Regions from separate parts of the Homo sapiens genome. Here region 2 is linked to region 1. Evidence: fine-mapped expression QTL. A gene starts in region 1. The other region holds a variant in brackets. All regions are shown on one strand. Distances are from middle to middle.

Region 1 (5,382 bases):
TATCCCAATAATGTCAATTCCCCTACAAATTCTACTCATCCTGCAAGATTAAACTCAAACATCACCAGTAGGCGGGGCTGGGTGGCTCATGCCTATAATCCCAGCACTTTGGGAGGCCGAGGCAGTTGTATCACTTGAGGTCAGGAGTTCAAGACCAGGCTGGCCAAGATGACAAAACCCTGTCTCCACTAAAAATACAAAAATTAGCCAAGCATGGTGGTGTGCGCCTGTAGTCCCAGCTACTCGGAAGGCTGAGGCAGGAGGACTGCTTGAACCTGGGAGGTGGAGGCTGCAGTGAGCCGAGATCGTGCCATGGCACTCCAGCCTGGATGACAAAGTGAGACTCCATCTCAAAAAAACATACCTTTAGTGAGAGGCCTTCCCCTGATGCCTCAGGAAGAACCTTTATTTTAGCTTCTACAGAACTTTGTAAACTCTTCACCCCACTATAACCATCACCACTTTGTTTGATGTTAGTTTGGGAAAATGTCTGCCTCTACAGGTAGGGCGGACCCCAATGCCAGCCCTTTACCACACAGAGAAAGGTTTATGAATGTTCAATAAATCAATTAATCAACATCTCACAGCTTCCCACCACACACACAATCCCCAGCACACACACAGATAGTACTTGTAACATCTGCAAATCATGAGCAGAGCTAGAAACCATAAAGATGGGCAGAACCCTAGACCCTTTAGATACCTTCCTTCCAGAAACAAGTACCAGTGTACCCAGGACAGCCCTGAATGGCCTGATCCCGAGCCCTGAGTTCTCCAGTCCAAAATACGTCTGCCATCTTATTCAAAAGGCAAAGTCTTTTCAAGAGTGTCACAATGTGTCCGACAGCAAAGCACCTATAATTAAATAAATATTCCAAAGGAAACGTTTGACCCAAAATCTTCAGAAATGTTATTTGTATACTAGTCACATTTGTATCAACCCACCGTATTAGGTTAGGTACCCCAACTAATCCCCACCTCTGGAAGGGAAGTTACAGAGAATTTCATGCAATTCATGCAGTCTGGTCACACATATGATCCTCTCAGGGCTCAGGGTTAGCTTTTCAGTGACTTCATTCTTTCTCAGTTGCAATTGTGTTCAAATTGAGAAAGATTTCCATAGAAAAATACAAACACCCAACTTAGAGTAAGGCCAGGACTGTGGTTGGAAACCCCCTTGGACCCAATGTAGATCTTACTCTATGATGCTAATGATTGGACAACTGGAGTTCTGTCAACCTTGGGCATGAGCCAACTGATGGATTCTGGGGTGTGTGTGTGTGTGTGTGTGTGTGTGCGCCTGTGTACACAACCTAAGTGTCTGGTGAGTGCACGCACACACACACCCCAGAATCCATCAGTTGGCCCATGCCCAAGAGTAACACACCTTTCTTCTAGAGCTAAGAAAGACAGCTTATAAGGTGACCACCATCACTCGCTTAAGGCATGTAAAAGCAAATAAGCAGGTCCAAGCCTGCACGCAGACAGAACCAGTGGGGGTTTTGCTTTGGACTTAACCACCTGTTTAAATCTTGAGGAAACACGATTACAGAAGTCTCAATCAGAGCAAAGAGGTACCAAATGATAAGTATTGAACATCATGATAAATGGAAGAACTAAAAAGCCACAAGCCAAGCCCCTGGCTGTGGCTCTAAGGTGCTGACCGTGTTAGAAAGATGGAGCATTTCTTTTACAGAGCATCTGGAGAGATGGGAAAAGATGCCACAAAGATCAAAAAGAAACAGCACTTCCAAAGGGAAACCTTCCCTGGAGATGCTGTCCCAAGCTTTCAGTGCTGCCATTGTTGTCACTGTGCTAATATTTAAATCAGACAGAAGAAAGTGGTTTACATAAACCGGAGTCCCACACAGTCGGGCTCCTGGGCGGCCGGCTGCTGTTCTGGTTTGCCCACCTTGGCTAACCCCACTCCAGAATTACCCTATCACTAGTGGATACCCTATCACTAGTGGACACAAGTGACCCCATCTTTCTTTTAATTAATGGAAGAAGGAAAGTTTGAGTTTTAAATACATTCATTACTTTTGAGTCTCAAGGTAGGGACACTGCACAAATGTCTTCCTTCATTTTTAAACTGGTGCCGCCAATAAACTCGGCTTGACAGAAAGGCAGGAAGGAGAGGAAATCTCTGGGAATTCCATAAAGTCCCCTAAGCCCTCTCCTACCAGCTGGTGGGCCCCCTGAAACCTCAAGCGGGAGGGTCACTGCCAGAGCCGGCACAGGACCGGGGAGTTGAGCCCAGGGTGGGGCGTCGGGGCCAGGTGCTGGCTCCCGAGCTTTCCCATCCCTAGTCCCCTCTAGAGGGGGCGGCCGGGATGGGGGAACGGGACGGCGGCGGCTCCCGCCCCCGCTACTCACCCTCCTGCTGGGCGCCCCGGGCGTCCTGGCGGCGCCGCCCGAGAGCAGGGTGACCGTGGACGTGGAGCGCAGCATCCCGCAGCGGCGGTCGGTAGCGGGCTGGACGCCGGCGTTCCTCCCGGGCAGAATAAGCGTGCGGGGCCCGCCCTGCGCGGGGGCGACGCGGGACGGCGCCGGCTACTTGCAGCCTCAGCTGCACCGCGAAGGCCCGGGGGTGGGGCCGGGGGCGGGGCCGGGCCGGGCCGGGGCGGGGCCGAGCGCGCTCACCCGACCCGTCAGGCTGCATTTTCTCCCGAGGGCGCCGACCCGGTTAAAGTTGAGCACCATCCTCTCCCAGGGCGCTGCGCCCTCCCAGGGTCAGTCCCAGGGCAAGAAGGAGCCCTGGACAGCCTGGACGCCCATGCTCTCTCTGTCCCCCGCAGAGTTGAGATCCACCTGCCCATTCAGTCTCACGACCTACCCCCACCCCGGACTGCCCCCTACAGCCTCTGCACGCCCTCGTATCACTGGGACCCTCACCCCATGTCATTCATTCAGTATTTCCTGAATGCCTATTATGCGTCCCCACCAGCAGCCAACCCAGTCGACTGGCTGTTGGCCTCGGAGAGTTTGCAGTGTGGTGGGGATGACAGGTGCCGGGCTGTGGTAGAAGAGGAGATACCATGTACTAAGGGAGCACACAGCCAACCTCAGAGGAGGTGATGACTAAGCTAAGACCTGAAATGCAAGTAGGAGTGGGCCACACTGCCCATATTTATTCAATGATTACTGTGGGCCTGCCTGGCGAGCACTTTGCGTGTGTTACCTCATTTAATCCTCACCATTGCCCTTTGAGGGAGTCACTGTTGTTACCTTGTATCCCCATTTTGCAGATGAAGACGCTGACTCACCTAGGGATTGAGCAACACAGCAGGCGACCCACTGGCCTCTCAGTGGCAAAGGTAGGATATGAATCCCCCAGTCCGACCCTAGTGCCTTGCTTGTCCCCTCTGCTGTCCCCTAACAGAGGGAGGAGGGAGTCCCAGGTCAAAAGAACTAGCATGCACAAAGATGGAAGGAAAGCAAGGGAAGGTATAAAATATGTTTCAAGAATTGGAAGTATCACAGTGCAGTGGGAAAACAGTGGAGAAGCAGCGGAAGGGAGCTGAGGACATCATGAGGAACCTGTGTGCTTAGCTGGAAATTTGGCCTTTATCTTGAGGACAAAGTGTTTTTCAGCAGGGAAAGACACAATCTCTGTCTTCAAAGCCCAGGTCAAGCACTGCCTCCCCACGGAGCTCTCCAGAAACCCCTTCCCCAAACACGCATGCTCAGGAACTTAGCAGCTCCGCGGGACCCTGTCTTCTGTTAGAGTTATCTATGTGTGTGCCTGTACCCTGTCCTTCTGGAGGGCAGAGGCCAGGCCTTGACCCTCTCTGAATGCCCAATGGCACCAACAGGGAAGATGCTGAAAAAAAAATGTTGCTAAACAGAATTACAGATGATCCTGTGGAACTCACTCCTTTTGTAGATGAGGAAACTGAGGCCGGTGTATACAAGTGACTTTCCCAAAGTTGCACAGCCTGTTCTTCACCATCCTCATCGTCATCCTCACAGTAGCTGTGCTTGTGTCCTAAGTGCTTTATATGCATTTTCTCAACCAATTCTCACAATGCCCCACAAGGTGGGCTACAGTTATCGCCCCTGTTTTGCAAATGAGGAAACTGAGGCCAGAGACATTAGGTTAATTGGTGAACAGCTGAGACTACACATCTAGTCTTCTAACCCAAGTCCTTCTGCTTTTCTGCTACACTCCTCTCTGCATCCTCCCATCCACCTATCCCTTCCAAAAAGAAAATTGTTCATGACAGGTTCCTTCCCATTCCACTTCCACGAAGCCCTCTAATCTACCCAAGTCTTTTTCATATTGTTAACATCCTATTCACACGGTGTTATATTTCTTTACAAAAGCAGCAGACAGCTCACTAGCTTGTGAGCTCTGTGTAGAAGCTGGATCTTGTTTACATCTCTGCCTGTCCAATATCTAGAGCAGGTAATTGACGTGTGGTAGTGCAAGTAAATGTGGAAAGAATGAAGAAATGTTATTACAGAGTAAGATTTCAACTCACTCATGGTCATGAAAAACAGAAACTAAGATCCTTGCCAACCCAGCTCCTAGGGTGGGCCAGGGACTCCAAGCAATTTGGCAGCTGAAGCAACAAGAGCCCCAGGGTTGTCCCAGCCAGGCCATTTCCCCAAAGCTGGCTGACAATCGCCAAGGGCTGTGGGTGGTGTGTCCAGGCAGATGCCAGGCCCTGGCTTATGCCACAGCTCCTCCCTAATAGGCCAGCACTAGGAATCTGAGGTCATAAGGAACTGCAAGAGAGAGGAGAGTGGGGAGCCCAGAAAGTGGGAAAGAAGGAAAATGGGAAGACAAGTAGGACTGAAATCAATGGAAAAGTGGATCTAGAGTGGAGAGGAAAAAGTAAAAAATGAAGTCACAGTCACTGGTTTCCATTAATATTTCTGAGAGAAGATGATTTTTAAAAAAAGATGGACTCTTTTCAAAAGAGGAATCAAAAGCTGAGAACTTCTGCCCAGTCAGCAGTCCTCTGGAGTCTACAGAACTGAGAGTGGGGAAGAGGGCCAATGGGAGGGGAACAGGGATAAGGGTCTGGTGTAGAAGTTCTCCACATTCCCTTGCAACATGACTCATCTACTCCAGACCCTCTGAGCATTGGTGATGAAGGGGTTGCTAGTGTTTGGGCTGGAGAGAACGGGAGCTATGACAAAACTGTCTTAGCTGTCATCCTTTTCTATCCACAGAAATAGCCACATAGGCCTAAGAGCAGTCCTGAATTTCTCTGCTAAAGCACAGGTGTGTAGAAAATTCCAGATGTCTGTATAAGCACCCTTCATTTTCTTGTAATCAGTTACTGAATTTTACCTCCTTCTCCCATCCCAGTTCCTAGAATTATCTTTCATATCCTCTAGGTCTCTGCTTCTGAATTGTCTTTGTTGCTTTCT
Region 2 (5,382 bases), 26 kb after region 1:
CACAGGAAACAGGCAGGTGGACTGTACCAGAAAGTGGTGTCGTATAGTATTGCAAGGATATATTTGCACTGGAGCTGGGAAATTAATTTGAATTTAAACAAGAAATAACCAGCCCTTAGACCACAAGCCTTCATGAACCAGGATTCTGAGCTGCTCAGGCTTAGAAAACACACAGCTCTCCTGGGAGTTGAGTTTTGAAGGGGGTTCACGCACAGAATCTAGTTATCTTTTTTTTTTTTTCAGGGTGAGGTGACACACAATAAAATGTTAACACAGAGAATGCTTGGGAATTTATAAACTTTGGTGAGGAAGAGAGGTAGAAACATGGTTTCTCTAAGGAGCAGTCATGCTTGACATTTTCAGAGGAAACTGGCATACACATTGATGCTAATGTTGGGGGAAACAGTTGTGTGTGATTTATAGATGATGAAAAACATTTGACAAGAATCTTTTGCAAAGGCTATCCTTTTTAAGGAGTCATGGCTGTAAGGAATGTTCTCTCAGGCATAGAGAACGGGTTTACAGATAAGAAAGAACACTCATAAACAGCAACTGCCCTGTGGAAGAACTGTAACCCCAGGGCCTTCTAACTGCTGGGCCTACCATCAATTTTTCGCTTCTTTTAAAAACTTAGCGATTGCATGTTCACTATTTAGGAACACAAACTAGCAAAAAAAAAAAAAAAAAAGGAAAATTTCCTGAAAACCTGCCACCAATCTTAGCTTTTTCACAAACGATCTTTGTATAAGAAGAAAGATGTAGAAAAATCTTCTGGTTTGGACCGGGGGTGGTGGCTCACGCCTGTAATCGCAGCACTTCGGGAGGCTGAGGTGGGCGGATCACGAGGTCAGGAAATCAAGAACATCCTGGCTAACGCGGTGAAACCCTGTCTCTACTAAAAATACAAAAAAAAAACTAGCTGGGCGTGGTGGCAGACGCCTGTAGTCTCAGCTACTCGTGGGGCTGAGGCAGGAGAATGGCGTGAACCCGGGAGGCGGAGCTTGCAGTGAGCTGAGATCGCGCCACTGCACTCCAGCCTGGGCGACAGTGCGAGACTCCGTCTCAAAAAGAAAAGTCTTCTGGCTTGGACACCGTACTAAGTTCCTACAACGATGCCAAGCTTATGGCCTGCACACAGAGGGGGAGTCTTCTAAGACTAGCTTTGAGGGAGCCTCAAAAGCCATTTTGCTCTATCATAGCACCTGACATCTTCATCATTACTGATACATTTATACTAGGGAAATATTAGGACTCAGTGAGTCTCTTTAGGAAAAGCCAGCATCTTATTGGCCATTACACACCTTAGCAGCGGTTACATTGCTATACTAAGGCCAACACCTTGGAAAGCAGAGCATAAGGCTCTGGAGAAAAGGGAAGTAACACGGTGCTTTGCAAATTGCAAAGACCTGTACAAAGGGAATGTTGTTATTATTGGTCCAAAGCAATGGGATTCTGGGTAAAACTGTGATAGAGGCTCTGCACCAAAGACATCAGACTCATAGGTCAGCAATGCCAATAAAACTCGGATATCAGTACGAAAACTGTGGGTCACCAAACAGAGACAATTGTCTAAACAACATGTGCAGTCACGAGACATGCAGGCCTGGTATCCCTGCCAAGAGGGTGAGAGTTGTATGGAAAACTTCCTCTGCACTCTGGAATTGTGCCCTGTGGCTGTGACTGCCTGGCTTTTACAGACTTCATGGTAACTGCAATTAAAAATGCAACAAACCCTCATACATGACAGGTGGGATTGTAAAGTTATATAGTCACTTTGAAAGACAATTTGACAGTTCCTCAAAAGGTTAAACATCAAGGTACGTTATCACCCAGCAATTCCATGCCTGCAATGTACCTAAGAGTATTGAAAACATATGTTCAAACAAAAACTTGTACACAAATGATCACAGCGGCATTCTTCATAATAGCTAAGATGTGGAAACAACACAAATATCCATCAATTGATGGATGAAGAAACAAAATTTATATTTTGTTTGTGTTCTATTTATACAATGGAATACTATTCAGCCTTAAAAAATAATGAAGAGCTGATCCATGCTACAATATAGATGAACCTTGAAAACATTATGCTAAGTGAAAGAAGTCAGACATAAAATGCCACATATGATTCCATTTATATGAAATGTCCATAATAGGCAAATTCATAGAGATAGAAAGTAGATTAGTGGTGGCCAGGAGCTGGGGGATTTGGGTGGGGAGAATGAGAAGCTACAGTGGGTATGGGATTTCTCTTTGGGGTAATGAAAATGTTCTGAAATTAAACAGTGGTGATTGTTACACAACTCTGTGAACGTATTCAAAGCCCATGTATTCTACACTTTAAAAGAGTGAATAATATGGTATGTAAATTATGTTAATAAAGGTTTTTTATTGTTGTTGAGATGGAGTCTTGCTGTCACCAGCCTGGAGTGCAGTGGCATGATCTCAGCTCACTGCAACCTCTGCCTCCCGGGTTCAAACAATTCTCCTGCCTCAGCCTCCTGAGTAGCTGGGATTACAGGTGCGTGCCACCATGCCTGGCTAATTTTTGTATTTTTAGAAGAAACAGGGTTTTGCCATGTTGGTCAGGCTGGTCTCAAACTCTGCCCTCAAGTGATCCACATGCCTAGACCTCCTAAAGTGCTCGGATTACAGGCGTGAGCCACTGTGCCTTGCTGGAAGCTACTACTAAAAGAAAATACCTGAAAACTCAAAGACTTTTTATTCTTTCCTACCCACTGGCCAGAGATCTCTTAGCCTTCCCTCAGTATACTAAAAGTACATGAGTAAATAGTCTGCCAGAAAGGGTGGAATAACCTGGGGACTATTACACCGTACAGTAGCCAATTCCATTTTTCTTTAATAACTGGCAATGAACACTCCCAGGCGTTTTCATTGTTCGTGAAAACTCTGCTTAGAACACAGAACAGAATCAGAGGTACAGGACCAGCCACCGAAGTTACACCTCTGGTTTGGTTGTCTGATTCAGGAAGGAAGAAGGTCAACTCCACAAGCCCCACCCTGGCAGGTGTGCGGAGCACGAGGGGGCCTTCCTGAGAGAGCAAGGAAGTGGGGCGGGAGATATCCCTGCTGACGAAAGAGACAAAACCACATCCAGCCAGGGGCTGCTGTTGCAGTATGGAGTTCCCCTCC[G/A]CGATGTGAGCAAACAGAAGAGAGAAAACGCCATCTCATGCCAGGATCCTTTCAAATAGGTCTCTTTCCCAGCCAAGCCTACTTTCTGCAACAGTTTTTCCCTTACATACGAAGCTTCTAGCAAAACACCCAGCATAGAGTGGGAGCTCAGTGAATATTTGTTTCATGAATTAATAGCAACATTTCTTATGATGGCAAACAAAAAATAAATAACTAAAATGTTCTACAATGACCTACTGGGTCATGCACATTTATGGTATGCCCATAACTAGGCAAGTCATTTAATATTTCTATGCATAATTTTTTTTGCTAAAATAGAGTAATAGTACCTATCTCACAGGGTTATTGTGATGATTAAATGAGCTTAGGTATATAAAACAAATAGAATATTGCATAGCATATAAAAATTACAAAACAAATGTTAACTATTAGTATTATTATTCCATGGAATACAGTGCAATTATTAAAACTGTGTTGAAAAAATATATTCTTTTGAAAAAAATTTTTGAGAAAATATCTTTTTATAGCTGAAAAAATTCACAATAATTTAAAAAAATAAGCTATGTAATAGCATAAACAGTAAGATTCCACATTTTGTGAAATAAACATCCATGTAAAGAAAAAAGTGTACACAAATATACATAAAAATATTTATAGTAGTTATTTCTAAATAGTGAAAGCAAGGGGGACTTTCTTTATTATTAATTGCTTATCTATTTTTCAACAGTCAGTATAAATTATTTGAGTAAGTATAAAAATTAAAAATCCAATTGAATCAGAAAAGCATTCATATTATTTGACACACTAATTCCAATTTGAGGATACTATTCTTTAAAAAAAGTCCCAAGTACCAAAGAAAATATTGCCTATAAGAATTAGGTAAAGTGCCAGGCGCGGTGGCTCACGCCTGTAATCCCAGCACTTTGGGAGGCCGAGGCAGGCGGATCAGGAGGTCAAGAGATCGAGACCATCCTGGCTAACACGGTGAAACCCCGTCTCTACGAAAAATACAAAAAAATTAGCTGGGCGTGGTGGCGGGCACCTGTATTCCCAGATACTCGGGAGGCTGAGGCAGGAGAATGGCATGAACCCCGGAGGCGGAGCTTGCAGTGATCCGAGATCGCGCCATTGCACTCCAGCCTGGGTGACAGAGCGAGACTCTGTCTCAAAACAAACAAACAAACAAACAAGAATTAGGTAAAGTGTGATGATTTTTCTATAAATTATAGAATAATATATAATGAGTTTAAAAGATTGATGTTCAAAATAGGCGTCAAAAAGCATTAGAGTAACGCTTGAAAATATTAGAAAATGCTATCTATATTAAGTTAACTGGGATACAAATGACTAGTATCTGATCTCAAGCATATAACAAAAGTAATCATTGGCAGAAACAATAGCTGACTCTCTGCCCTTTGTTGAAGTTAACTATATTTGTCACCTTTTGACCAGAACAAGGTGGATTCTTTCTCAACAATTTACAAATTAGCCAGAAACCCCTAAACTTAATAGAACTTCAGTTCTTCCAGGTGGAGGGTTGTCCTGTGACATAAAACTAAAATCATTAAATCTATCCAGTCTAGGAAGAGAAAAGCCCAAGAGGAAATATGCTGTCCATGTATGAAATCATAAACGTTCAGGTAAATATAGCCCTGTTCATTTATCAAAATGTGAGACAAACAAAAGTTATTTTAATTCTATCAGTATTTGTCAGGCACCTGCTACAAACAAAGATGAATAATGAGACAGACTTTGTCCCGGAGAAGCTCACCACCTAATGATGTAGGAAAAAATAACTATAATCAGCTAACCACAGTCCGGAAGCGCTGCAAGAGAACAAAAGACCACAGGAGCCCAGGGAAGGGGGAAGTTTGGATTTGAAGCATCACCTGGGACGTAACCTTGATGCTAAACCTTTACACTAAAGCATGAACATGGTTTTGGTAACCGGCAGACTGAATGGTCAAATTCTAAGCAGGGATGCCGTCCTTCACTGAACCACTGATGGGCACTGGGGGTAGCTGATCACTCTTAGGGCTGTGTCCCTGTGCACTTGCAGAATGTGTCAGCATCTCAAGTTGACAACTTCTTGAGAAGTTGAGGGAATGATGTGGAAGAAGGAAAAGAGCTCAACAGCCCAAATCCAAGAAGCAGATCTTTAAGCGCAATGCAGTGTTTTAAAGCCTGCTATAGGAGTACATGAGAGGGGGACCACACTTAAGCACAGCC

The links. PIP is the estimated chance that this variant, and not a neighbour inherited with it, causes the effect.
Region 2: its variant is fine-mapped to the expression of GCOM1 in blood mononuclear cells (TOPMed, PIP above 0.99).

What each region holds. Positions count from the first base shown.
Region 1 is chr15:57,589,104-57,594,485 of GRCh38, reverse strand. It overlaps GCOM1 (GCOM1, MYZAP-POLR2M combined locus), which reads right to left and starts at 2,582. Exons shown (of 17, transcript NR_104371.3): 1 at 2,377-2,582. MYZAP (myocardial zonula adherens protein) reads right to left here and starts at 2,582. Exons shown (of 13, transcript NM_001018100.5): 1 at 2,377-2,582. The coding sequence starts at 2,451. RefSeq lists a silencer at 2,584-2,693.
Region 2 is chr15:57,563,222-57,568,603 of GRCh38, reverse strand. No RefSeq gene overlaps it. Among named protein-coding and RNA genes, the nearest start is that of GCOM1, 26 kb to the left of the region's middle. The variant G/A (reference allele first, on the strand shown) is at 3,154.